4 linked regions of the Homo sapiens genome follow. Each later gene encodes a partner of the first gene's protein in a complex. Each region holds a gene or a part of one and is shown on either strand. Other genes may lie near its edges.

Region 1 (4,936 bases):
CAGCTTGACTCTGTGTTTCTAGCCATTTGGGCATCAGGCTCAGGTTGGGCAGAGAGTTGGATTTATCCAGATTTGGTTTATCCAGATCTGGTTTGATTTATCCAGATCTGGTTTATCCAGATGAAGACACTGGGGTAGGGATTGGTCATATGATTAGTGGTAGACTTTATACTTGGATAAAGAGGGGAGAAAAGGGGAAAATGAGGGTTGTTTTTTTTTTTTTAAATTGTTTTGTAGAAATGGAGTTGCACTGTGTTACTCAAGCAGTCTTGAACTCCTGCCCTCAAGTGATCCTCCCCAAGTGCTAGGATTACAGGTGTGAGCCACTGTGCCCAACCTTGGAGTGAGATGAATAGGTGATAGAATCGCTGTATTACAGGTCCTAGATTAAGAATGAGAAAACAATAAGGAATTACCTAAGAAAAATAGGAAGGTACATAATTGGAAAGTTGAGTGGTATAATTGAAAAAACCCAGGTAGAAAACAGCTGGACTGGGAGGTCAGTCTGAAAGCCCAGGTTATTAGAAGCTGTTACACTCGAACCTTAGTAATAACTGCAGTAAGAAAAAGATAGTAAATGGAGCAGAATCCAAAATAAGATGGAAAGCCTAGTTTTTAGAAACTGGGAGAGTTGATTTAGAAGCCACAATAAGGTTAGAACAGTCACCACTGTAGGGTTGCAGAGAAAAGTCAGAACAATTTTGTTGAAGATTCATCATGAGTTCCAAAAGATGTGGGGAAAGAGTTTTAGAATGTACAAAGGTAAATGTGAATTTATTCCCATGATGACTCATGGATACTAAAGGCCTGGGGCTTTCTGGAGTGCTCAGAGTATGGGCAGAGGAAAGGCCAGGAATCCATCATTTCTGAGCACTGGGGGAAAGAAAATCCCAAAATTTAGTATCTTTATCTTGGTGATTAAAAGACTCAAGCCTGTAATCCCAGCACTCTTTGGGAGGCCAAGGAGGGAGGATAGCTTGAGGTCAGGAATTCAAGACCAGCCTTGGAAACATAGCAACACATCGCTACTAAAAATCAGACATTAATGAGACGTGGGGGGCTTGCCTATAGTCCCAGTTACTCAGGAGTCTGAGGTGGGAAGATCACTTGAGCCTGGGAGATTGAGGCCACAGTGAGCTGTCATCATTCCATGGCACTTTAGTCTGGGCAACAAAGCAAGACTCTTCCCCCTACTCAGCATCCCCCCCCCCCCAAAAAAAAAAACCCATCTCTTTACACAAATTGCCTACAGACCACTTGATACAGAATGGGCCAGACATGGTGAGTTAGTTGTGAACCAACTGGTTACACTGGTGGGTGTGTTGAAGAGAGAAGGTTTTATCATTCTTAAGTTTGACACCGTTCATTGCAGGGGCCCTCCTCGCCAAAGACAGCCTAGAGAGGACGGCAATGAAGAAGATAAAGAAAATCAAGGAGATGAGACCCAAGGTCAGCAGCCACCTCAACGTCGGTACCGCCGCAACTTCAATTACCGACGCAGACGCCCAGAAAACCCTAAACCACAAGATGGCAAAGAGACAAAAGCAGCCGATCCACCAGCTGAGAATTCGTCCGCTCCCGAGGCTGAGCAGGGCGGGGCTGAGTAAATGCCGGCTTACCATCTCTACCATCATCCGGGTAAGCAAGCTTGGATGGCCATCCATTTATGGCAGTCGTGAGTGGTGACCATTTCGTTTTATTAATGCAAGAGTAGAAAAACCTCAGTTCCATCAGATAATGAAAGCCATGTTATTTATAATGTGTTCTGCCCTATTCTTAATTACCTAATATTTCATTTTAGGAATATTGAATATCAGAGTCATATTTGGCCACCCTTCAGCTAGTTCTCAATTCTGACACTGGAGACCTGTATTTTCATGAGTATTTTGAACTATTAGTGCTTTCTATCAACTTTTCTGAATGAATTTTATGATTTCACTAGTAAACAGAGGAAAGTTTTGCTAGCTGTATTCTGAGAAATATGTTAATTACATTATTATTTATGCATTATTTCAAAAAGGAAGTGGGGATAGCTGTTAGAATTAACCTAGATGGTGACAAATAGAGTCTGTTTGGAGAAAGTGGCAACATTAATATAATCTTTTAATCATTTCTAATTGTTTTTTTTTTTTGTTGGTTTATGTTGTTCCCGGAAAAAGACGAGAGTGTTTCGTGTCTAAAAAACTCCTAGAATGACACGTGGTTTATCATGGTTTATTTAAACTGCCTGTAGATTAATAATAATAATTCTCTGGCAGACCACATGATACAATTACGTTCTTGTTACTTTAGCTCATTAGCTCACTTGTTTTTATTACCCTTAATTCCAAAATTAAGGGATTCTTTTTCATTTCGCTTTTTACATGATATCGAGAGGTACGTGATTGTTGTTCCCTCCAAAATTAGCATTCAACCAGTGGTGCTTTTGGTTTTTTCCCGTTTACTATTTGCTGGATGGCAAGAGATCTGTTAATGTCTCCCAATACACAAGTAATGTAAACTAGGGCATGTACTACACTAAATGAAGATCACCATGAATTCTACATGATCATCTTTATTTTTTTCTTTACAGTTTAGTCATCCAACAAGAAGAAATATGAAATTCCAGCAATAAGAAATGAACAAAAGATTGGAGCTGAAGACCTAAAGTGCTTGCTTTTTGCCCGTTGACCAGATAAATAGAACTATCTGCATTATCTATGCAGCATGGGGTTTTTATTATTTTTACCTAAAGACGTCTCTTTTTGGTAATAACAAACGTGTTTTTTAAAAAAGCCTGGTTTTTCTCAATACGCCTTTAAAGGTTTTTAAATTGTTTCATATCTGGTCAAGTTGAGATTTTTAAGAACTTCATTTTTAATTTGTAATAAAAGTTTACAACTTGATTTTTTCAAAAAAGTCAACAAACTGCAAGCACCTGTTAATAAAGGTCTTAAATAATTGTCTTTGTGTAAATTTGTCTAGTTTTGCTTTAGTTTGTAAGTATTTAGCTATTTATAGGACCCTTAGCTTGACCCAGTCTACAAATAGATGATGCTCACTGGTAATTCCCTCAGGTAAAATGTCTCAAAATCTCTAATCCTTTAAGTGGCATGCCTGTGGGCCCATACTAAAAATTAGAAAATACATACTCTGATAACCTGGCCATTTTTCATTGAAGGATTTAGCTCATTTGTAAGAAAGACTTGAGTGTAGATTTTGGGTGGGTCCCTTTGGCTGTGAGGCATTGTTTAAAAGGGCATTGCTCTAGCCTAGACCGACCAGACTCTCATCCTGCTCCACTTAGTTTTGTCACCTTGGGAGAATTTGTTTCAGTGTGTCAATTGAAGATGCCAATTGAAGTGTTAGGACAACCTGTCACACTGCCTGGTGTGGTCATCAAATATTGGTTCAGCTCCTTATGTCCTAGAGATGGAAACAAGTAATATAAAACCCATGGGAAAGCTGCTTAGGAACATGGAGGTTGGTGAGCTTGTAATTATGTGGTTCTCAACACCTTAAATCCTAAGCCTAGTCTGGCTGATCTTTTCTCTTTTTGAGACGGAGTCTTGTTCTGTCATCAGGCTGGAGTACAGTGGCACAATCTTGGCTCACTGCAACCTCCACCTCTAGGTTTAAGCGATTCTCCTGCCTCGGCCACCTTAGTAGCTGGGAGTACAGGTGCGTGCCACCACACCCAGCTAATTTTTGTATTTTTAATAGAGATGGGGTTGCACTGTGTTAGCCAGGATGGTCTTGATCTCTTGACCTTGTGATCCGCCCGCCTCAGCCTCCCAAAGTGCTGGGATTACAGGTGTGAGCCACCGCACCTGGCCTCTCTGGCTTTTGTTTTCTAATGTTTTGTTAGATGTTCTTTGGCTTGCTTTGTGAAATAGTCATGTAGTTGATAGTGACTGCTGCCCCGAAACACTCCAGATCATCCTGGCCAGCTATCAGGGCCCAGGGGAAGCAGACAGTAGGGGTCGGGAGTAGGCCAGAGTGGCACATCAGGAATCCTGCAGTGCTGTGGAAGTCATCTCCTGCTTGGGACTAACTCTTTGCAGAGGACTTGATAAGAGACTACTCAAAAAAAATTTTTTTAACCCTACTTAGTGTAAATATCTGTACTGCAGAAGTGAGTTAGCCTATTTCTTGCTGGTGTTCATGAAAATACTGTGTTGGCAAGAGTGCAGTGGACCTGAAACTTCAACTGTTGGTAGCATCTAAACTGTTACTTACAACTGCAGACGCACACAGTCCCTGACTTAAACAGTGGTTTGACTTAGGGGCTTTTAGTGGGGTTACGGTTTCTACTGAATCAACATTGTTTTCATGGCATCACAGAGTTGAAAAATCATAAATGAAACCATTGTAAGTTGACTGCAGTGTTGCCAACATTAAATGCAGTTTCAACTTAATGATTTTCTGACTTGTGGTTTATGGGGACATTGACCCATCATAAATTGAAGAGCATCTGTATTAGGATATCATGGAAATGGGAAGACCAAAAACATTGGTTAAACATCCAATAATGTTAGAATGAGATTCTCGAAAACACATTGAGGAGGACAGTTGTTTGGGGGAATACAATCTTAGGTGCTAGTGTTGGAAACAGAACTACGTACATGTTTTTAGATACTGTCTCCTGTTCTGTTGCCCAGTATTTTGTGTACTTACGGATTATTTGTAAGGACTACAGAGGCTATACATCTCAAAAACTACCCAGAAAACTTGCAGCCAAGATCAAGGTTTAGAACCTGTTCTGCCAATCAGATACACCAACATGAGACCTGGAGACATTGCTAGGAAGCTATGCAAACTCCTTTTGCTAGCGAGGGTAGTCGCTGTGCTTTGGTGATGCTGCAGCAGCAATGGTTTCCTCCTATCTGCCTCACCTAGATGGTGACACTGAGCCTGGTTCCCCAGCCTTAGCAATTGTGAGATAACCTGTATTCCT
Region 2 (4,795 bases), about 200 Mb from region 1:
ATTGATGTTTTTTCTTTAAAAACAAAATTTTCTCTTACAGCAATTCTGGGGTCAGAAGCCATGGAGTCAGCATTATCACCAAGGATATTATTGAATACCCAAATAAAACGAACTGATACATATTTCTCCAAAACCTTCACAAGAAGTCGACTGTTTTCTTTAGTAGGCTAACTTTTTAAACATTCCACAAGAGGAAGTGCCTGCGGGTTCCTTTTTTAGAAGCTTTGTGGGTTGATTTTTTTTCTTTTCTTTTTTGTACATTTTTAATTGCAGTTTAAAAGTGAATCGTAAGAGAACCTCAGCATTGTGCACGATAAGAGAATGTGTCAGTATTTCAGGGTTCTACATTTTATCTGTAAAATGTGACTTTTTTTTTTTTTTATCACAACAGAAGTAAAATGTTGCTTTGTACCTGGTGTCTTTTATTAAGAATTTACTCCCCCCATTTCTCACAGAGAATAACAGTCGGGAGTCATTGTCACAATATAATAGAAATGTTAGCAACCAGATTCATGTAAGGACTAAGTGGTCCTCATGAATTGCATTAAGACTCTGTACTGCTCATATTACACTCCATCCTCTCTGTAGTTTGCTGGGTAGTGGAGGGGGTAAGCTAAATCATAGTTTCTGACAATAACTGGGAAGGTTTTTTCTTAAAATAACAATGGAATTGGTATAATTGGGATTGAAAACTAAAACTTGGAACTAAGATAGAGAAGATGGAGTGTATGTAGAAGGGCTGTTAAAAATGTAAAACTTGGTTGCATTATTTGTGGAGGCTCAAACTTGTGAAGGTTAATACCATAATTTTTCCATTTGTTCTGCATTTTGATTCTGAAAAGAAAGCTGGCTTTGCCCATTTCTTATTAAAAAAACTTGTTGTAAATCCAGTTGTCTAATGGGATCTATATGAAGTTAGCCATGTCTGTATGCCCTTCTCCCACAAAATACTGTATAACTAGTGTGCTTGTAGTAGTTAACTCCACCATCTTTGTAAGCTAATGAAATTGTGAGTCACCCATTTATATCTTAATTTTTAATCATGTCAGTTCTTGAATGGGTATCTCCTTAGCCTGCTGATTTCTTTTTCTTTCTAAAGAAAGTGGGTGGAGAAATTAATTTAGACGTTTGTTTGCAATAAAAAGAATTCATTTTACTCTTGTTTTGGGATTCTCGCCATCAAGGTTCAAAATCCCTTTATATAACTCCCAAGAGGAGAAATTTATTAAGTGTGTGCTTTCTGGACAGCTTATTCTTTACTCTGCATAGAACATTTAGGTTTTAAAAACTTAAATGTATACTGACAATTGATACATAATTATGAAGTAAAGTTGAATTCTTCCCTTCCCCTCCCCCCCAGACAACTTTTAACATATTTAATGAGGGGAAAAGGTACTGGCTGGGAGAAGTTAACACTGAGTTTATCATCTTTACAGAATGCTAATGCTGTCCTCAACTGATTATTTTATATACATATATATGATACATGAAACTCTGGGATCAGATGCTTTTAGAAGCCATCATGCAAGCCAGTCATTGATGTCACTGCTACACAACACTGCTAACTTGACTGTAGCTATGTAATAACATTAGATCCCCTAATTGTAATTATATTGGGTTTGCACAGAACACTTTAATCTTCCCCTCACCAATGTGAAGTGAGGAATCAGGAGTCAAACTGTAGAACTAAAATTTGACTTCAGTCTAGCGTTTCCTTGGTGTTTTTAGGTTGCTTTGGTAAGTTTAGGTTTGCTATATTTCTGATTGCTTAGAATTTTGTTTTAGCCCTTTAAAATCAGATCATAAATATGAATTCATACTTCTAAGGAATTTTCTTGCTATAAGCTGGAGTTTAGGTGATGTATAGGTTCAGTTGAGACATTTTTGGAACAGGCAAATCCTTAGTTAACATAAGATATTTAACAGTTGAAGATAGTGTCATGGATTTTTATCTTTTTTAGCAAGTAATGCTAAGAACCACTGGCCTGAGCTACTACTCTTCAGTATACATTATTAGGATTGCATAGACTTACTAGAGGAACAGTTTCAGGTTTTGATGCTAATCAGTGTTGTGTCCTAAAGTTGTCCTTTGTGCCTTTAAAAAGTTTTGGATATATCTTCTAGTTTAAAATTGCTTATTAAGGAATTCATTTTATAATTGCAGTGGGAAAGTAATGGTCAAGTAACACTAGGTAGACTATCATGCCTGTTTAGCCCAGAGAATTTGGGGGGAGAGAGAATAGATAAAAATGGCACCCAGAAAAATGTTAAAATCTTTAGTCAAGACTAGAATTAATACAATTGTCTACACTTGTATGGCAGAAATAACCTTATAAAGTGTTTAAGGAATTCAGAGAAGGGAATGTACCAAATAAGCAACAGGGAGAAAATTAGGTAAGAAGTAAGATACGAACGAGAAACCTGATTTATTGCTCATCCTTCCCTTGCCTCCCTAATGGCAAGCAAAACTCTGAACATCTGAAAAGGATGTAGTTCTGGACAAATCCTGACTACCCAGAGGAAACTCACTGTGAGATTGCTGTTGATTTGAAGGGTGCTTTCACTAAGGTTATATTTTAAAGTAGAATAACACATGCTGAGTGTAAACTGGCTTTGGATTGGTCAGCTGCAGTAGTACAAAAACAGCATAGAATTTGAGAAAACTAAAACTGCTATGAGATAGCTATGAGAAAACTAAAACTGCTATGAGATAGAAATGATGTAAAATTATGTGGAAAGTTTTCCCTCATATACTCACATACAGCCTTTGAAGGGCTCTGGCTCTGACCGGTTGATGGCCTTGAGCGAGATGAAATCATGAAATTGAGTCAAATCAATTTGACATTGAAATGACAAGAGGAAACTCTTAAATACATAAAAACAAGCTCTCATTTGCCTAGGATAGATACTGTCTTAAAAATAAAGACTGAACCTAGATGTTCTGAGCACTAGCAACAAGGTATTTTAACAAGTTTAAAGGAATTCTCTGAAAAAGTTATAAAATTATTCTAGGAAACATAACCATAATAGTGTTTTAAGGGACTTTCACCTGGGGATTTTATATTCATGAACAGAGTGTATTCTGTATTTAAAATGTCTCATTTGTGGGAATTGGATGACATGTTTTTTGATAAATTTATTCACAATATAAATTGACTTTTTATTCTAGGACCATGTGAATAATGGGTTCCATTGCACAAATACAAATATTTTAATAGCTTCTTAGGCAGTGGTGTAGACATCTTGGATATAAATAATTGTAGATCTTGTATATTTGATTTTTAAAAAACTAGAATAAACAGAGAGGCATAAACATATCTTAGAGTCCAAGTGGTAGTGTTTAGCATTGGATATAATAAATGGATGTTTTACAAAGTGTTTCCATAATTCTCTTCCTATACATAAATGTCTTGTTTTCAAAAGTGGATGGAACTTGGCTGGGTGTGGTGGCTCACGCCTGTAATCCTAGCACTTTGGGAGGCCAAGGCGGGAGGATCACTTGAGCTCAGGAGTTTGAGACCATCCTGGGCAACATAGTGAGACCTGGTCTCTTGAAAAAAAAAAAGTGGATGGAACTTGTAGCAGAGAATTTTATCTACTTCTCAACCTGCTTCAGAATACCCATTTGAGATGTTCCCCTGGAAAGATGAACACAATACTGCATCTGAAGCCATTTCTTCCCACCTAACATTCTTAAAATGATTAGAGTCTAAACTTTGTCATTCATTCCTAATTCTGGAGCTCTGAGGTTGAGGTGTTCAGAGTTTGGTGAATAATTGGGTTTAAGTTTTAACATTTTAGTAATAATAAAAGCAAACACATACATGTTAAGGCCTGACAATAGGTTGCAATACCCATGCATTGGGACTCATACCCAGCATAAATGGTGAGGGACTGAACATTAGTGCTTTGAGCAAGAATTGGTTAACTACCTGAGATCTCTAAAACAGTAATTTGAATTACTAATACATAAACCACAAGTCTCTTCGAATTGTTAATTGCCTAAATTTACCCTAAAACTTAGTTAACGCTGCAGTGCCTTTATTAAAGCTTTTTTTTGGGGGGGGGTGTGGGCACAGCTACTCCATAACTTTAAATTTTAAAGCATGAAGGTGATCTAGCTAGTGTTAGTGCTTGAGTTGGTAGTTACATAGGCTGCTCTTGAATCGTCCTGTTTTCTTTGCCTAGTATTAGCACCACAGGTACATATTTGTAAAATAAGCATTAAAAGTACTTTGTCCAGCTAACTCATGTTGGAGTGACCTTTGTCTTACTAACCTTTGTTACTAAACTTGTTAATTAGAATAAGCCCTTGAGAATTTGGAAGTGAGCTATACTACTAATGTAGTATATATCTCTTGAGTGTGTTGGAGTAGATGAAAAACCAGGGGTCCCCAAGGGTATATTTTTGAAATTGAACAGAAACAATTCATCTTAATATTTAGTTTTCATTATGTTTAGCTTAATATGTGTGCTAGTTTATTTGGCGTCACACTTATGTCAATCTCAAGTCATGCAGAAATAGCACAGTCTCAGAAAAGAGGTTAGGTGGGAAATAGATGATATGCTTACATTATTGAGCAGGACTATGCTTTCACATCCTAACCAATTGACTAAAAATATAAATGATTGAAGTAATTTTCATTAGTTGCCCCAGGAGTCTTTAATAATAGTTTTAAGGGATAGTAGATTGGACATAGATAGATGGGTTATTCATAATGGATATTCATAATGGATATTCATAATGTTAACCTAGAATTATTCAGAAAATATAACACCTATGTAGTAGAATCTA
Region 3 (7,000 bases), on another chromosome or scaffold:
GGCCAGGATGTCTCGGATCTTCCGTTGAGCCATCTGCAGCAAGAACAGGCAAGAGAGTGGGTGTGAGACCTCCAAGGAGACAGCCTTCCACGGAAGAGAGGTCATCAGGTCCAGACACAGGCAATAAACAGAACAGGTCACACAGGACTCAGAAGAAAGATAAAGAGGAAGAATGAGGGTTGGGGTGACCTTACATTTCTTTGCCTCCAGTGGAGCCTGAGTATCCCCTGGAAAATACAGCAAACGTGGTGGGTGTTAAGTGGGAGATGGGGTTGGGGGACTTGAAGGAAGGAGAAACAGTAGTATCAATCCATTCATCAGAATTTAAAACTTGACAAAGTTGATAAACATTACCAAACGCAAAACAGAATGCCTAGAGTTTCTAGGCAGAAATATATTACATATTGCAGAGCAGTGGTCCCCAACTGTTCTGGCACCAGGAACTGGTTTCATGGAAAACAATTTTTCTTCCACGGATGGAGGTGGGGGTGGGGAAGTGGTTTCAGGATGAAACCTCAAATCAGCATGCAGTAGATTCTCATAAGGAGTGTGCAACCTAGATCCTTCACATGCACTGCGCATCCCTCGAGCACTTCACAACAGGGTTAGCCCTCCCATGAGAATCTAATGCCGCCCTGATCTGACAGGAAGCGGGGCTCAGGAGGTAATGCCCACTCGTCTGCCGCTCACCTCCTGCTGTGTGGCCCGGTACCAGTCCGTGGCCCGGGGTTTGGGGACTCCTGTTGTAGAGGGTCGTAACTTAGAAGACATCATCACAAATCCACGCTTCATTTTAATACCCCAGGAAAAGGAATAATATGTCTAGATATGGCCAGGTGCACGGTGGCTCATGCCTGTAATCCTAGCGCTTTGGGGAGCTGAGGCGGGTGAATCACCTGAGGTCAGGAGTTCGAGAGCAGACTGGCCAACACGGTGAAACCCCATCTTTATTAAAAATACAAAAATTAGCCGAGCGTGGTGACGTGCGCCTGTAATCCCAGCTACTTGAGTGGCTGAGGCAGGAGAATCACTAGAACAGGGGAGGCGGAAGTTGCAGTGAACTAAGATTGTGCCACTGCACTCCACCCTGGACAACACAGCGAGACTCCATCTCAAAAAAAAAAAAAAGTAAAAATAAAAAATAAAGTCCAGATATGGGTTAGTCAAAAAGCATAAATACATAAGCTTCACTGTAAAAATGGACAAAATACCCAATCTTTTATTATTTCCTTCTTAAAAGGTTCTTCCCTAAGAATAAAGTTTTATAAAGGAAATAAACTGCAAAATGGGATTCACTTCATAGAATGAAGACCAGAATGTCTCCTTTCCATAAATGAGTGCTTCCTTTCCTGGTTAAAGAAGCAGCTGAGGCTGGGCATTGTGGCTCATGCCTGTAATCCCAGCACTTTGGGAGGCTGAAGCAGTGACATCACTTGAGCCTAGGAGTTTGAAACCAGCCTGGGCCACATGGTGAAACCTCATCACTACAAAAAAATACAAAAATTAGCTGAGCGTGGTGGTACCTGCCTGTAGTCCCAGCTACTTGGGGGGCCTGAGGTGGGAGGATCACTTGAGCCTGGGAGGTAGAGGCTGCAGTGAGCTGTGGTCACACCACTGCCCTCCAGCCTGGATGGCAGAGCGAGACCCTGTCACAAAAAAAAAAAAAAAAAGAGGAAGTTGATCTAGGTTGGGAAAATAATGTGTAAGTCAATAAGAGGTCCAACTCCATCAACCCTGGCTTGATGTTTTACATAGCTTTTCATTTAATTCTCATTCTGATCAGCTAAAATTGCTTCAGTGTTTAATATTAATATATCCTGGCTTTATGCATCTTTGGAGGTATCCTTTACTCTCTTTAAAAAAAAAACGCTGAATTAAAGATTCACATTTACCCTCTTAAGCTTCATTTATAAAATGAAATTGTTGTGGGAATTAAATGAGTTAATATACATAAGCCACATAAAACAGTGCTGGGTATACAAAGGCATCGATAAATCTTAGATATTATTATTATTATGGCTCTTATTAATACTTTTTTGTTATTTTATATATATATATAGTTGAGATGTAACTAAAGCCTCTTGTTAATACTTCTCAAAGGGTTATCAGAGAAAGTTACTTATCCAAGGTCACATAGCAGAAAGGCTATGTATGTGAAGTTTGAGGTCAAAGCTCCCTGGATCCAAAACCTTCATACTTGATGCTATACTATATGGGCACTGGAAGCCAAAAAACCAAGAGCCAGTTTGCCCCAATTGCTCTAGCAGCCCCAGCAGACCACAAGCCTGCTAAGATCTGGATATCTTCTATGAATTGTAGGAACTGTGATCAACAGTCTCCAAAGTTCCTTTCCAGTTCTAACAATGATGGATTTAAGACTTTAGGAAAACACCATTAGCTGCCAACCACCTGTTTGCTTGCCTTGCTGAGGTTCAGCAAAATTTGAACCTGATATTGGCCTTCCCTTCCATGCTCTGGAGCCTGTCCGAGTGCTGAACGGCAATGATGAGTTCTGGGAAAGGAATGGGAGGGTGGAAGAGCAGAAACCAGGGAGAGAACAGCCATTCTGCGAAAGGCAGAGGGACTACATTTCAAAAATGCCATCAATCCAGGGTGTTAGTACTGTTATCATTATTCCATGAACAAAACTAATCTTCTTTCTTAACCAGTGCAGAAAGGGGTTAGGGAGGGACTAACGTAGAACATATATATATATATTTACATATAATATATATTCATATATATGTTATTTATATATATAATGTTATACACAATATATGTACATTAAACTTGTCAAATCACTTTTCCTAGAGAGTAATAAGAGGTAATATGTCATCTACACATCCCACTTCTGCACCTGAAAGAGGGCAATAACCTAGCCTAGAGGCAGGCAGATGTGGCTGAGGCCCCAGGACTTGTCAACGTCATGAAGGTCAACCTCTATAGAGTCTCTGCTTCTCTGCTCCCTGGGCTCCTGCAGCCCTCCCTCAATGGGGGAGCACCATATGTACCTGACTGGCATAGAAATGTCCGATGATTTTCACGATGACCTGGTCGTTCTCATCAGGGGTCTGGTCTCTTGGTACTACCACCTCAGCTGCCGTCAAATTCTGCAACTCGTTCACCTGGGGGTGGCCAGAGAGGAGCTCAGGGTGCCATCAAGAAAGCATGGGTGGGGTTGGAGGGAGGAGCCAGGGTGACTAGTGGGGAGAACCTGGAAGAGTCAGGACCTGAGCTTGGGGAGTAGAATCAAGTAAATGAGCAAATCAGGAGTCCTGAGGTTGAGCAGTACAGGAGACCAGAGAGAGCTGCTGAGATTGGAGACCAAGGCCCAGGGCTTTCAACCTGGCCCTCACAGCTCACCGTTTTTCCACCTTTGCCAATGACCCGGCCAGCTGCTGATGCTGGCACACGTATGTGGGTCTCCAGCTTCACTTCCTCCTTGGGACCAAAGAAGTTCTCCTCCTTGAGTTTGCCATAGATTCTTCCCTGAGCCTGAGAAGAGGAGGTAATTGTTAATCAGTGGTTCATATATCTGTGACAAAAGAGAAAAGTGGGAAAAAGGAAGCTCCAGCCCATATTTTCTGGCCCACAGGCCCTCCCCATCCTAGGCGGGCTAACCATCTAAGGCAGGTGAAGGGCAAGGCTCAGGTGGGCAGCTTGTCAGCATTCCTTCTGCTTAGCTATCATACTGGAGACCCTGGGTGGAGATTATGAGTTATGAGTAATTGAATAAACACTTCCCAAGGGAAAAAATAGTTCCCAGAGGAATCTAATTCACAAGCTACAAACCAGACCTATGGAATCTGGACGTGGCACTGACCAGCATTTCAAGGCCCTGAATGGCAACTAATCAAGTCACACAGAGGGCAGGCCTGTCTGACTCTCCAGTGGCCCAGAGAGCTGTCCCAGTCCTCTATCCTCACATATGTTAGGTTAAGCTAGTTGATGGTTCATTTTTTGGCTGTCTGATCAGAAGTTCAAGAACCTTAGGATTTAGTGGGGACATAAAAGATGAGAATTTGGCATTAAAGGCCTTCCTTAGAAATGACAGCAGAGTGCAAATAAGATGCCCTCAGACTTCTTTCCTTCCCATCTTCTTCTGTGGACCTTAAAAAGGGAAGACGAAGTCAACAGAAATCCAGTTTGATGTCAATTTGAAAATAGCTCTGCAGCCCTTTATCCTGCATGGAAGGCTTAAAGATGTGATGAGGACTTGACAGCTAACGGGAAACTGACCCAGCCTTTTTCCTACCTCAGGGGAAATACCCAACCTCAATTCCTCCATGTTCAGCTTGGAAAACAATAAAGACCAAAACCTTGAATTGGGCCTCTGGCGGTCCAGTGATGATAACCATACGAACTTTGGAGTCAGGTGTTTCGGGTGGTGCAATCTAAAAAGCAAAAAGCTAGTCAATGAGGGACCCTCTATGGGAAGACCCCCACCATGTCCACTTCATCCAGTTCCCCTTCTACCACCCTTACTCCCAACTACCCATTCTGAAGACTTAGGGGAGGAAGAACAAAGACCCTGAAGCCCACATCATTACGCCTTCACACCAGAATTATTAGGAGGGCAGAGGTGGTCAGTTAGAAGGATTGGCTTCAATGACACTTTCTAAGTAGGGCCTCCTGCCCCCTCCACCTACCAATCTCCCAGAGAGGTTTCAGTGGAGTCTTGCCAACAGGCAAGGACACAAATGAAATGACCAACGGATAGAGGGCAGTGACTGCACCTCCACTGGAGAACAATCAAGGTTTTTGCTCAAAGCTTTTAAGACAACTAAAGCAACCGGATTTAGGTTTGTGAAACTCTAACAGCATCCTTGTTTCACTATGACAGATTCTCCCTTCTCTCTCCCCTGGACCTTGGCCAGGGAAGGTGACAGACAACTAACACTTACTTGGTGTTAGTATGTGAGCGAAGGGCTTTGGCTGCGTAGCCTCATAATATTGTACTGACGAGGAAAGTGAGGCTCAGATCATATAGTGTATTGGGGGAAGGGGTGATGAGATGGATCTTGGATTTGAACCCATCAGTTTGTGTTAGAACCTAAGTTCTCTTTCTATGTTATAACCCTGCCCCTGCCCAGCCTGAAAACCCAGAAGCACTGAAGCCATCCCATGGGGACCAAGCAAGATCAAAAACAAAGAGGACTTCGATTCCATGGGGGAAAGGTCCCTCATATGACACACAGAATTCTCAAATGAGTAGGGGGAATATGGGAGAAAGTGCAGAGTGATAAAAGCAGAGACCCCTCCCTTTCCAGAAACAGGAAGACCCACAGAGCAGATCACCTTGATGGAGGCGCTGGCAAACCGGGAGAGCTGTTTGATGTGCTGCCCCTTCTTGCCGATGATGGCGCCCACTGCCTGGGCGGGGATAAACACCTGCACCATCTCCTGCTCGGGAGCCTGCTGCCAGGATAGGAGGCGTTGTTACCAGGGGGCCCAAGTAGCATGGCCCAGAAACCCTCCACTCCCCTGCCTTGCATCCTCAAGGAGGAAGGAGTACAGGCACCAAACCGCCACCCTGGGCTGCCAAGGGATGCTGTGAGCTCTTTAGCTCTTCCTATGCCCAGTAGGGCTAAAGGGAAGAGGCCAGGAGAGAGTAAGGGAACAGTGCTGTCTATGCCCCGGGAGCATTCTAGGCAGACATTTGGGAGCCTCAGAGCCAGTGGCTAGGAGCACTGGAGAGGAGGGATGCCTCTGAGACCTTCCTTCCCTCTCCCTGCAAACTTGCCAAGCATCCAACTCCCAGAGCATGCTGAGTCCCCCTTAAGGGAGGCCACATATGGGCCCAGGGATCCCGTGTAATAAGATCTTCCACCTACCATAAAGGAGCTATAGGGAGCAGCCCCAGTAACGCTGCTGGGAGGCGGCGGGACTGCGCTGGATGAAGCTGGGAAAAGACCTACAGCAGCCAGGTTCAGGCCAGGGATCAGGTGAGACTGCAGCTGGGGAAGAAAGATGAGGAGGAAGAGTCAGCACACCCTGACAGGGGCTTGTGTGTGACCCCCGCTGTATAAAAGGCGAGTAGCCCCAGAGGCAAGTGGGCCAAAAACATGAATTACATACTTTTCCACAAAAGCCTATTCTGTGCTTTTCATACACTCTCACCTACACACTTCGGGTGTGGAATTTTAAGTGATATGATGTTCTCACTGGACTAACGGCTAGCAATTGCAACCAGAAATGCCAAACAGTTGTACACCCTCAGGAGTCCTTCCTCTCTGGCTGTTCAGACTGCTGGAGACAGACGATAGACCCATGACACTATACTATAACCCCCTATATGAGAAAAAGGCGTGGAGACAGAGCTCCATTGGACTTCTAGGACTCTGATTCTAAACATTTTTGGTCCTGTACCCCAACCCCAAGTCTCCTTTAAAAATCAGATGAGTTGTGTGCAGTGGCTCATGCTTATAATCCTAGTACTTTGGGAGGCCAAGGTAGGAGAATCGCTTGAGCCCAGGAGTTCTAGACCAACCTGGGTGACACAGCAAGACCCTGTTTCCAAAAAATAAAATTTTAAAAAATTAGCTGGGCATGGTGGTGTACACCTGTAGTCTCCTAGGTACTTGGGAGGCTGAAGCAGGAGTATTCCTTGAGCCCAGGGGGTCAAGGCTGCAGTAAGCTATGATTGCGCCATTGTGCTCCAACCTGGGCAACATACCAAGACCCTGTCTCAAAAAAATAAAATAAAAATCAGATGAAAACGATGGACCCCCTCATTTCAATAAAGTGCACACAAACACAAATTGTACACATACTTGGAATCACAGGACTCAAAGCCCAAGATTGGACCCCTACTCTAGGAACCAGGTGAAGAATCCTTGCTAATTAAATACTATTTAAATACTATTTCTGATAGTCGAAGTCCAAAAGCATCAACTAAAGCTCCAAGGCCACACGGCACAGGGCACATGTCCATCACCCTGCACCCCACAAGCTGCTGTTGCTAAGACTCAGGAAAGGATAAGCAGAGGGTACTACCCAG
Region 4 (8,033 bases), on another chromosome or scaffold:
AATTCATTGGGGTTTGAGACTCCTAAAAAAAAAAGCCAGTTGCCAAATGTACATTCTCCATCAGTATTTCAACTGTCAATAAGCTGGCTTTGCAGCTTTTCAAAAAATATTCTAGAGGTATCATGGGTGTGTTTCTTTATACTAGGACTACCAATAGAACAGATTTAAACATCAGTAGCTGGATAACATGATAAACTTCACAGCAAATTGCTTTAGAAACAAATAGTTTAAAAAAACTTAAAAAAAGGAATTAGGAAAGATTGATGAATTATCTCAACATCTAACATACATCCATTTCATACCCAAGGAATATTTACCAAAATTAGGAAACAGTTAAAATGACTTTAAAACTAAAGGGAGTATAGAAAGACATACCTTAATTTTTGCCTCATCTGGTCCTTTACTAGAATCTGCTACTTTGGTCCCTTGTTTTTCTCTCTGCCTGTAAGTCTTCATGACTCCACATAAAAAGGCACTTTTGTTCTGCAAAAAAATGTTCCATTAATATTTAACAATAACCATATCTGAGTCTAATAAAATTCAGCAGATAGTATCAAAACTACTCAAATTTTTTAATTTTCACATTGACATTAACATTACCTGAACATGAGAGAGATCACTGTCTTTAAACTGTTGAAGAACTGCCAATGCACCGTCTTCATTGAATTCTTTTAAAGCTTCAATAGCTCTTTCATCTAAATCACTATGTGCAACTAGCCCTGAAAAAAATAAAAGTTATCAGCTTTTAATATTTTTAGAAAAGATTTTTTAGAGAAGACTATGTTGGCAATACAGGTACATGTGTGCCTTTACAATTCTTCTACTCCCCTCATCTATACCTGAAAAAAAAAAAACACACACTTCAGCCACTCTGAACTGAATCCTGAACTAAATATGCCCTACCAACCACACTTACAATAATCAGCTAACTTCTTTTACATCTTTTATCTCCAAAGTCTGATAACTCTGAACACTACGGTATTTTTACAGTATACAGACTTACGAATCCTAGAATCAACCAACAAAGTACCAAGCATGACAACTGAACCTCTACTCAATTTCAAATACCACCAGAAAAAGTTAACAGCCGCACCAGAAAGACAAGAAAACAAGTCTACAGTTACCAAGTTATTTAAGAAGAATCCTACTATAAAAATACTCAAAAAAGTCACATGGCCTGTTCCCAACATTTAGCAGCTGTTGCTACTATCATATACTTATCCATCAGGCCAGCATGCAAGCCAGCCTTTAGCTCCTAACCTTCTCTTCTTCCCTCCCTCTATACATCTTAACCTCTACTTCAAACTTAAATTAACCAACTATCACAACAAGCAAAACTCCAGTACCCACACTTATTGGAAACCACAAAAAGTTGCTATTTTAGCTCAAAGCCAGAAATCCAATAGAAAAATTTCATAATGTAATTTTGCAAGTGTTAGTTCTTACCTGCAACGTAAATTTCATCTAGTTTTTCAGCAACTTTCTGTGGTAAACCAGCATCAAGCAATGTCTGAAAATTTTCTGAATGGATAACTGCAGAAGTAGTATCCATGGGCTCTTCAGTACCATTTCCATTAACATGTTCTGTAGCCATGTTTCCAGAGATCTGTTCAAACGCAATAAGCAAAATTAAACTAGGATCTTCAAAAAGAATACAAGACAATATGAGAGCCCCATCTTTACTTTCTCTACCATTTACTACACCAGCTAGCCTATACCTCCCTTTAAAAAAGCCTTACAGTCACTATCGCCTGACAAGCCAGATTTGGAGCACAGGGCACAGAAGGACCGATTCACCATATTCTTCCTCAGCACCACCCCTGACTCACCTGCTAACACTCCCTAGGAAAAACCATATTACAAATAGAGCCCAATCAGCACGGGTACGAGCCAGCGTGCCACATGCAGCTGTGCCCGTTCGGAAAATGAGGTGTGTGTGGAGAAAGCAAAACTGGGCTCCTCTCTCTCAAAGATAAACCCCCAAAGTGCGCGCTTTTCCCGCCTGCCGCTTATAGATCGGTAACAACAGCCAGCGAAGAACAAAGCGCTCATACAAGCCACCTTCCCACCACCCAATTTCTCCACCCTTTAACCCCGCACCCCAAAGCCCGCCCCTGACTCCGCACCCAGAGCGGCAGTCTCACCACTGCGGCCGCCAGGAGCCCATTAGAAACACGTGCTCTGCGCCTTCCAATGTCCTACAACTTCCTTCAACGGCAACCCAACGAATCCCAAACCAAGACGACCATCACTGGTTCCCAACATCAACCCGAAGCCGCGGTCGGAGCCCCCAGAAAGCTGCAGCAGCACAATCTCTCCCCTGAACACCGAGGCACCGGCGGCGCCAGGCCACAGGCTCTCCCCGCCCCCCAGCGCCGCCGTCTCCGCCGTGACACATGGCTCTCCGCCCCTGGCGCTCCCCGGGCGCCGACGACCCCCGGCCGCCCGCCCGGCCGAGACGTGACCCGTGGCGCGCTGTGCAGGTCCCCACCCCTTACCCTTCCGTGCAGTGACTGCGACGCCTGCCCGGCAACCCAGCAGCGTGAGGGCGTTCAGCGGACGGCTCAACGCCCGCGGGACCGTGAGCACCGCCCAAGCTCGCCGCACGGCTGCAGGACAAGACCCACTCCTCTCCGCCCACTCCCGCGCCGCGGCGACCGCCACGACAGCACCAACTCTGAAGCCGCTCGCGGTCCGTGCGGGCCACGGGACCGTGGAGGCGCCTCCTCCCAAAGCGCCGCAGACAAAGCCCGAACCGCAGCAGCACATGGAAAGGAGGAAGTGGCGGCGCGGGCCGCGGCCTACTCCCAGGCAGCCCCAGTCAACGTGCTCTTCTCCCCATTGGAATCCATTTTCCAGAAAAGCCGGTTTCTACCCGCGCCACCCTCCCCCAGCTCACTCCACAATGTCATGGAGCTCCCCTCCCACACCCAGGTTCTGGCAGTCGTTACCTCCCCGTTGGGCTGAGGCGGAGAAATCCTGTCCGATGGTATCGGGTTGCGGGAAACGCGTGCTCGCTGCTCCCTGTGTCCGGCGCGAGTGGAGCTGTTGTAAAATGGCGGCCGAAGCTCACGCCGCTGGCAGCAAACCCGATCCAGTTCCACTCGCCTCCGAGCGCGCTCCCGGTGCGCGCGCGCGCCCCCGCGTGACCCCCCCTTCCCTTCCCTTCCCTTCCCTCCCCTCCCTCGCGCGTCCGCTTCACTCACTCCCTCAGCCCCTGCCCTCCTCCAGCTCCTCCTTCTCCCCCTACCACCACCACCACCACTAGCCTCTGTCCGCCTTCTCTCGGCCTTTCTTATTCCCGCCCCCCGCTCCTTTACCCCACTGCTCCCACTCCCCTCTGCGGTCGCTCAGGCACGAGTGGCCGCCTTTCCCCTTCTGGCTCGCACGCTCCCTCACTCCCTCCCTCGCTCGCTCGCACTCTCGGCCCGGTCCCCCAGTCCCTGCCGAGTCGGCTCCTCTCTTTCTCTCTCCCGCGCTGACGTGACAACGTAGCCTACGCCTCGGGACGCGCGCCCGCGGGCTCCGCCCCCACGCCGCGCCGCCTTCCCCGCTCCTCACCCCTTGGGTTGGGGGTGGGGGAGGCACAAGACCCCGCCCTTCCGCTCCGACGGTGGCGGCCGAGGGGCCGAGACTGAATGAAAGGCCCGCCCCTTCCCCTCCCGACACTCCCCCTCCCTCTCCCCTCCAGGCGGGGCGGGCCGGCTCAGCGTGTCCCACTCGTTTTCCTTTGTCAGGAGACTGGCATCTCCCCACCCCGCCCCACCCCACCCCCTCCCCGCGACACCATGCGCACGCCACCCCCACCGAGCTCCCGCCCGCCCCATCCCTGCCCGGTCCGGGGCTGGCGGGGCAGAGTGCTGTGGGCGCTGAGTGCGACTGCCGCTTCCCGGAGGGCACCCACCGGTCTGTGCGCGCCCGGCCCCCGCCCCCGGCTCCGCGGCCGCGTAGCCGTTCCAGGCGGTGTCCACGCCGCTGCCACCGCCCCGCGCTCTCCTCCTCGGGAAGCTGCAGGCGCACGTGTCCCCCGGGGCGGGGCGAGGCAGACAATGGGGCCAAGGGGGAGGGGAGCGGCGCGGAGACCCGCGGACCTTTGGTCCGCCGGACTGGCGGTACTCGAGTGCGAGAGTCGCCCTTGGAGACTCGATCTCCCCAACTGGACAGTGGGCCCTCCTCGCAGCCGCGCGGCTCCGCTTTCACGGGAACCTTCGGCGAAGGGAGGGGCGCCCCAGGCTTGGACGCGGAAACCCCGGCTGCTTTTGAAGGGGGAACGGGGCTGGCTCCAGTGGAGCGAGGAGCGGCTCCTGCCTTGGGATGACACGAAGGCCAGATTTGGAAGCGAAACCGCCCGGTGGTGAAGGGTTGTGCAATACTCCGTTTCAGTCCCTGGCCTTTTAAGCAGTTAAGGGCTTCCTCCTGGCACAGTTTGAGCAACTTGAAACAGCACAAAGCTGCGTGGTTAGAACAACTTTGAGAAAAATGTCTGTGTTTCTTTTAAAAAAAACCTTGGCAACTAAATCTTCTGTGAAATGACGTTTCCTTTATAATCGTTTACTAGGTACAAGAAAGACAAGACAAAGGCATTTGAATTACAGACGCGATATGGATACTAATTTTATCCAGGGCAGCTGTAATGAAAAATAGAAACAATGTCCTTTTGATTAAAAAGCTTATTTTTAAGAGCTTACTGGTTCCCCAGATGAGCTCTGTGCTATGATAACAAATCAGTGGTTTGAGGAAAAGTTAGATAAACACTCTTCAAAGTGCACAAGCACATAAAATGCTAGATTATTTTCATAGCTACTTGGATCAGATATGAAGTATGTTTTAGCCAAAGCACCACATAGCCAACCTGTTTAGTAAGGATTTGAGATCTCCACCACCCCAGATTCCTTACTATCAAACATATGTGATATTCAGCTGCTTCAGCCATAGGGATTTTTGTTCACAATGCAGAGGTCGTGGTTAATGATATACATGAAAAACAAAATGTTTAATAGAAAACTATGAAAATAAGAGTCATACCATGGATTAAACAAGAATAAAAATTGGCCGGGCGCGGTGGCTCACGCCTGTAATCCCAGCACTTTGGAAGGCCGAGGCGGGCGGATCACAAGGTCAGGAGATCGAGACCATCCTGGCTAACACGGTGAAACCCCGTCTCTACTAAAAATACAAAAAAATTAGCCAGGCGTGGTGGCGGGCGCCTGTAGTCCCAGCTACCCTGGAGGCTGAGGCAGGAGAATGGCGTTAACCCGGGAGGCGGAGCTTGCAGTGAGCGGAGATCGCGCCACTGCACTCCAGCCAGGACGACAGAGCGAGACTCCGTCTCAAAAAAAAAAAGAATAAAAATGAGTCTGAAACATGTAACACTTTGTTTAGACCTTCCTGGGTATTAAAAAAAATTTTTTAAAGTGCCTTAACCTGGGCAAAGCTCCCAAATTAAAATCTCTAGCTGTTCTCTGACATCTAATTCCTTTCTCTAGCCACGCCCTCAATGTTTATGTGGGCTTTCTGGCACTCCAGATGGGCATTTCAAGAAACTGAGCACGTGATCTTCCCCCAGTCTTCCGTCTACAGAGTTCCCATCTCAATTAACATCCCCCACATGAATTGCTGGAGCGGATCATTCAAGGCACTTCCTTCTCTACACTGCCATATCAGTTAATCAAGTCCTATCAATTCTGTCTCCCAAATATATCTCCATTTATCTCTATGTTGCAACCACCCAGGCAAAGCCACCATCATCTACCACCTGTACTAATGGCATAGCCTCCTGATTCATCCACTCTTACAGCTGTCCTAATCTGTTCAAAGCCCAAGTCATCTGTCTTTCTGTATGACTCTCTGTCTCCTGTGTAGGCTCTCTCCCTCCCTTGACCTTCTCTATCTTAATTGCAAGTAAGATCCTATGGCGTGTCTGCTTAAAACCCTTCATTAGCTTCCAATTACACTTAGAACAACAGCCAAAATCCTTAACTAGATCAACAAAGCTCTCTAAGATCTGTCCCACCTGTCTCCCCAGCTCATCTCAGCCACTTTATGGCTTCAGCCTGGCCTTCCCTTGATTCTGGCATTTCTTTTTATTTGAGACGGAGTCTCGCACTGTCGCCCGGGCTGGAATGCAGTACGTGATCTCGGCTCACTGCAACCTCCGCCTCCCAGGTTCAAGTGATTCTCCTTGCCTCAGCCTCCCAAATACCTGGGATTACAGGCGCCCGCCACCATGGCCGGCTAATTCTTTTGTATTTTTAGTAGAGTTGGGAGTTTCACTATGTTTGCCAGGCTGGTCTCGAACTCCTGACCTCATGATCAGCCCGCCTCAGCCTCCCAAAGTGCTGGGATTACAGGCGTGAGCCACTGCGCCAGGGCTCGTTTTTTGGTTTTTTGTTTTTGAGACGGAGTCTCACACTGTTGCCCGGGCTGGAGTGCAGTGGCGGGATCTCAGCACACTGCAACCTCCACCTCCTGGATTCAAGCGAGTCTCCTGCCTCAGCCTCACGAGTAGCTGGGATTACAAGCACCCACCACCACACCAAGCTAATTTTTGTGTTTTTAGTAGAGACAGAGTTTCACCATGTTGGCCAGGCTGGTCTCGAACTCCTGACCTCAGGTAATCCACCCTCCTCGGCCTCCCAAAGTGCTGGGATTACAGGCGTGACCCACTGCTCCCGACAGAGTATTCATTAGTTTCATTGCTGTCTTTTCGTCCATGTAAGCTTTGAAACAGTGAGAAGATGCAGCCCTGTTGAGTTGGCAACTAATGAAAGAGAGGAATGTAGGCAGGCCTGTTTGGATTTTTTACTTATCCAAAATTCTTCCACCCAGTCAATGCCACACTGCCACACTGTTTTTTGTTTGTTTGTTTGTTTTGTTTTGTTTTTTGCATATTTTCTTCTCTTCTTTACTGCATTTTCTAAACTTCCTGCCATTAACATATATTAATTTTATAATGGGCCAGGGAACCCTTCAATTCACAGGGTAAAAATTCACAGCACACCATTACTTTTTCCATAGAACCATAAAAAGCTAGTGTTGAAAGAGACCATGGAAGCCATTCAACCTAATCTTTCTAGTAATCAAGAAAATTTTTGCACTATCTCTCACATCTTTTTTTTTGAGATGGAGTCTTGCTCTGTTGCCCAGGCTAGAGTACGGTGGTGCAATCTCGGCTCACTGCAAGCTCCGCCTCCCAGGTTCACGCCATTCTCCTGCCTCAGCCTCCGGAGTAGCTGGGACTACAGGTGCCCGCCACCACGCCCAGCTAATTTTTTTGTATTTTTAGTAGAGACGGGGTTTCACCGTGTTAGCCAGGATGGTCTCAATCTCCTGACCTCATGATCCGCCCGTCGCAGCCTCCCAAAGTGCTGGGATTATAGGCGTGAGCCACCGCGCCCGGCGGCACTATCTCTCACATCTTATTTTCATAGTAATAAAAAGCCTGCCCTATCAAAAATTAAAAACTTTTGTTCCAAGAAAGACACTGTCTAGAGAATGAAAAGACAAGCCGCAGACTAGGGAAAAAAAATAATCTTTGCAAAACACATATCTGATAAAAGGCTGTTATTCAATAAAATATACAAAGAATTCTTAAAACTCAACAATAAGAAAACACACAACCTAATTGAAAAATTGGCAAAAACGTTGATATCAAGTGTTAGGCAAATAAAAAACAAAAAAAAAATGTTTTGTTTTTTTTGTTTTGTTTTGTTTTGTTTTGAGAAGGAGTCTTGCTCTGTCACCCAGGCTGGCATGCAGTGGCATAATCTTGGCTCACTGCAACCTCCACCTCCTGGGTTCAAGCAATTCTCGTGCCTCAGCCTCCTGAGTAGCTGGGATTACAGGCTTCTGCCACCAGGTCTGGCTAATTTTTGTATTTTCAGTAGAGACAGAGTTTCACCATTTTGGACAGGCTGGTCTAGAACTCCTGACCTCAGTGATCCACCCGCCTCAGCCTCCCAAAATGCTGGGATTAAAAGCATGAGCCACCATGCCTGGCAAAAAAAAAAATTTAATGGGCAAAAAATCTAAAC

Evidence for each region.
Region 2: YBX1 (region 1) and HNRNPU share a complex: the UniProt entries of both Homo sapiens proteins name them as parts of the coding region determinant (CRD)-mediated complex.
Region 3: YBX1 (region 1) and IGF2BP1 share a complex: the UniProt entries of both Homo sapiens proteins name them as parts of the coding region determinant (CRD)-mediated complex.
Region 4: YBX1 (region 1) and SYNCRIP share a complex: the UniProt entries of both Homo sapiens proteins name them as parts of the coding region determinant (CRD)-mediated complex.

What each region holds. Positions count from the first base shown.
Region 1 is NC_000001.11:42,699,409-42,704,344, forward strand, and holds the end of YBX1 (Y-box-binding protein 1), read left to right. Parts: intron 1-1,372; coding exon 1,373-1,607; 3' UTR 1,608-1,638; intron 1,639-2,572; 3' UTR 2,573-4,397; downstream 4,398-4,936. UniProt on the Homo sapiens protein: DNA- and RNA-binding protein involved in various processes, such as translational repression, RNA stabilization, mRNA splicing, DNA repair and transcription regulation.
Region 2 is NC_000001.11:244,849,749-244,854,543, reverse strand, and holds the end of HNRNPU (heterogeneous nuclear ribonucleoprotein U), read left to right. Parts: intron 1-40; coding exon 41-94; 3' UTR 95-4,247; downstream 4,248-4,795. UniProt on the Homo sapiens protein: DNA- and RNA-binding protein involved in several cellular processes such as nuclear chromatin organization, telomere-length regulation, transcription, mRNA alternative splicing and stability, Xist-mediated transcriptional silencing and mitotic cell progression.
Region 3 is NC_000017.11:49,042,385-49,049,384, reverse strand, and holds part of IGF2BP1 (insulin-like growth factor 2 mRNA-binding protein 1), read right to left. Parts: intron 5,958-7,000; coding exon 5,835-5,957; intron 5,419-5,834; coding exon 5,299-5,418; intron 4,395-5,298; coding exon 4,320-4,394; intron 3,496-4,319; coding exon 3,364-3,495; intron 3,126-3,363; coding exon 3,012-3,125; intron 34-3,011; coding exon 1-33. UniProt on the Homo sapiens protein: RNA-binding factor that recruits target transcripts to cytoplasmic protein-RNA complexes (mRNPs). This transcript 'caging' into mRNPs allows mRNA transport and transient storage.
Region 4 is NC_000006.12:85,639,846-85,647,878, forward strand, and holds the start of SYNCRIP (heterogeneous nuclear ribonucleoprotein Q), read right to left. Parts: upstream 3,042-8,033; 5' UTR 2,952-3,041; intron 1,607-2,951; 5' UTR 1,595-1,606; coding exon 1,447-1,594; intron 720-1,446; coding exon 601-719; intron 484-600; coding exon 376-483; intron 1-375. UniProt on the Homo sapiens protein: Heterogenous nuclear ribonucleoprotein (hnRNP) implicated in mRNA processing mechanisms. Component of the CRD-mediated complex that promotes MYC mRNA stability.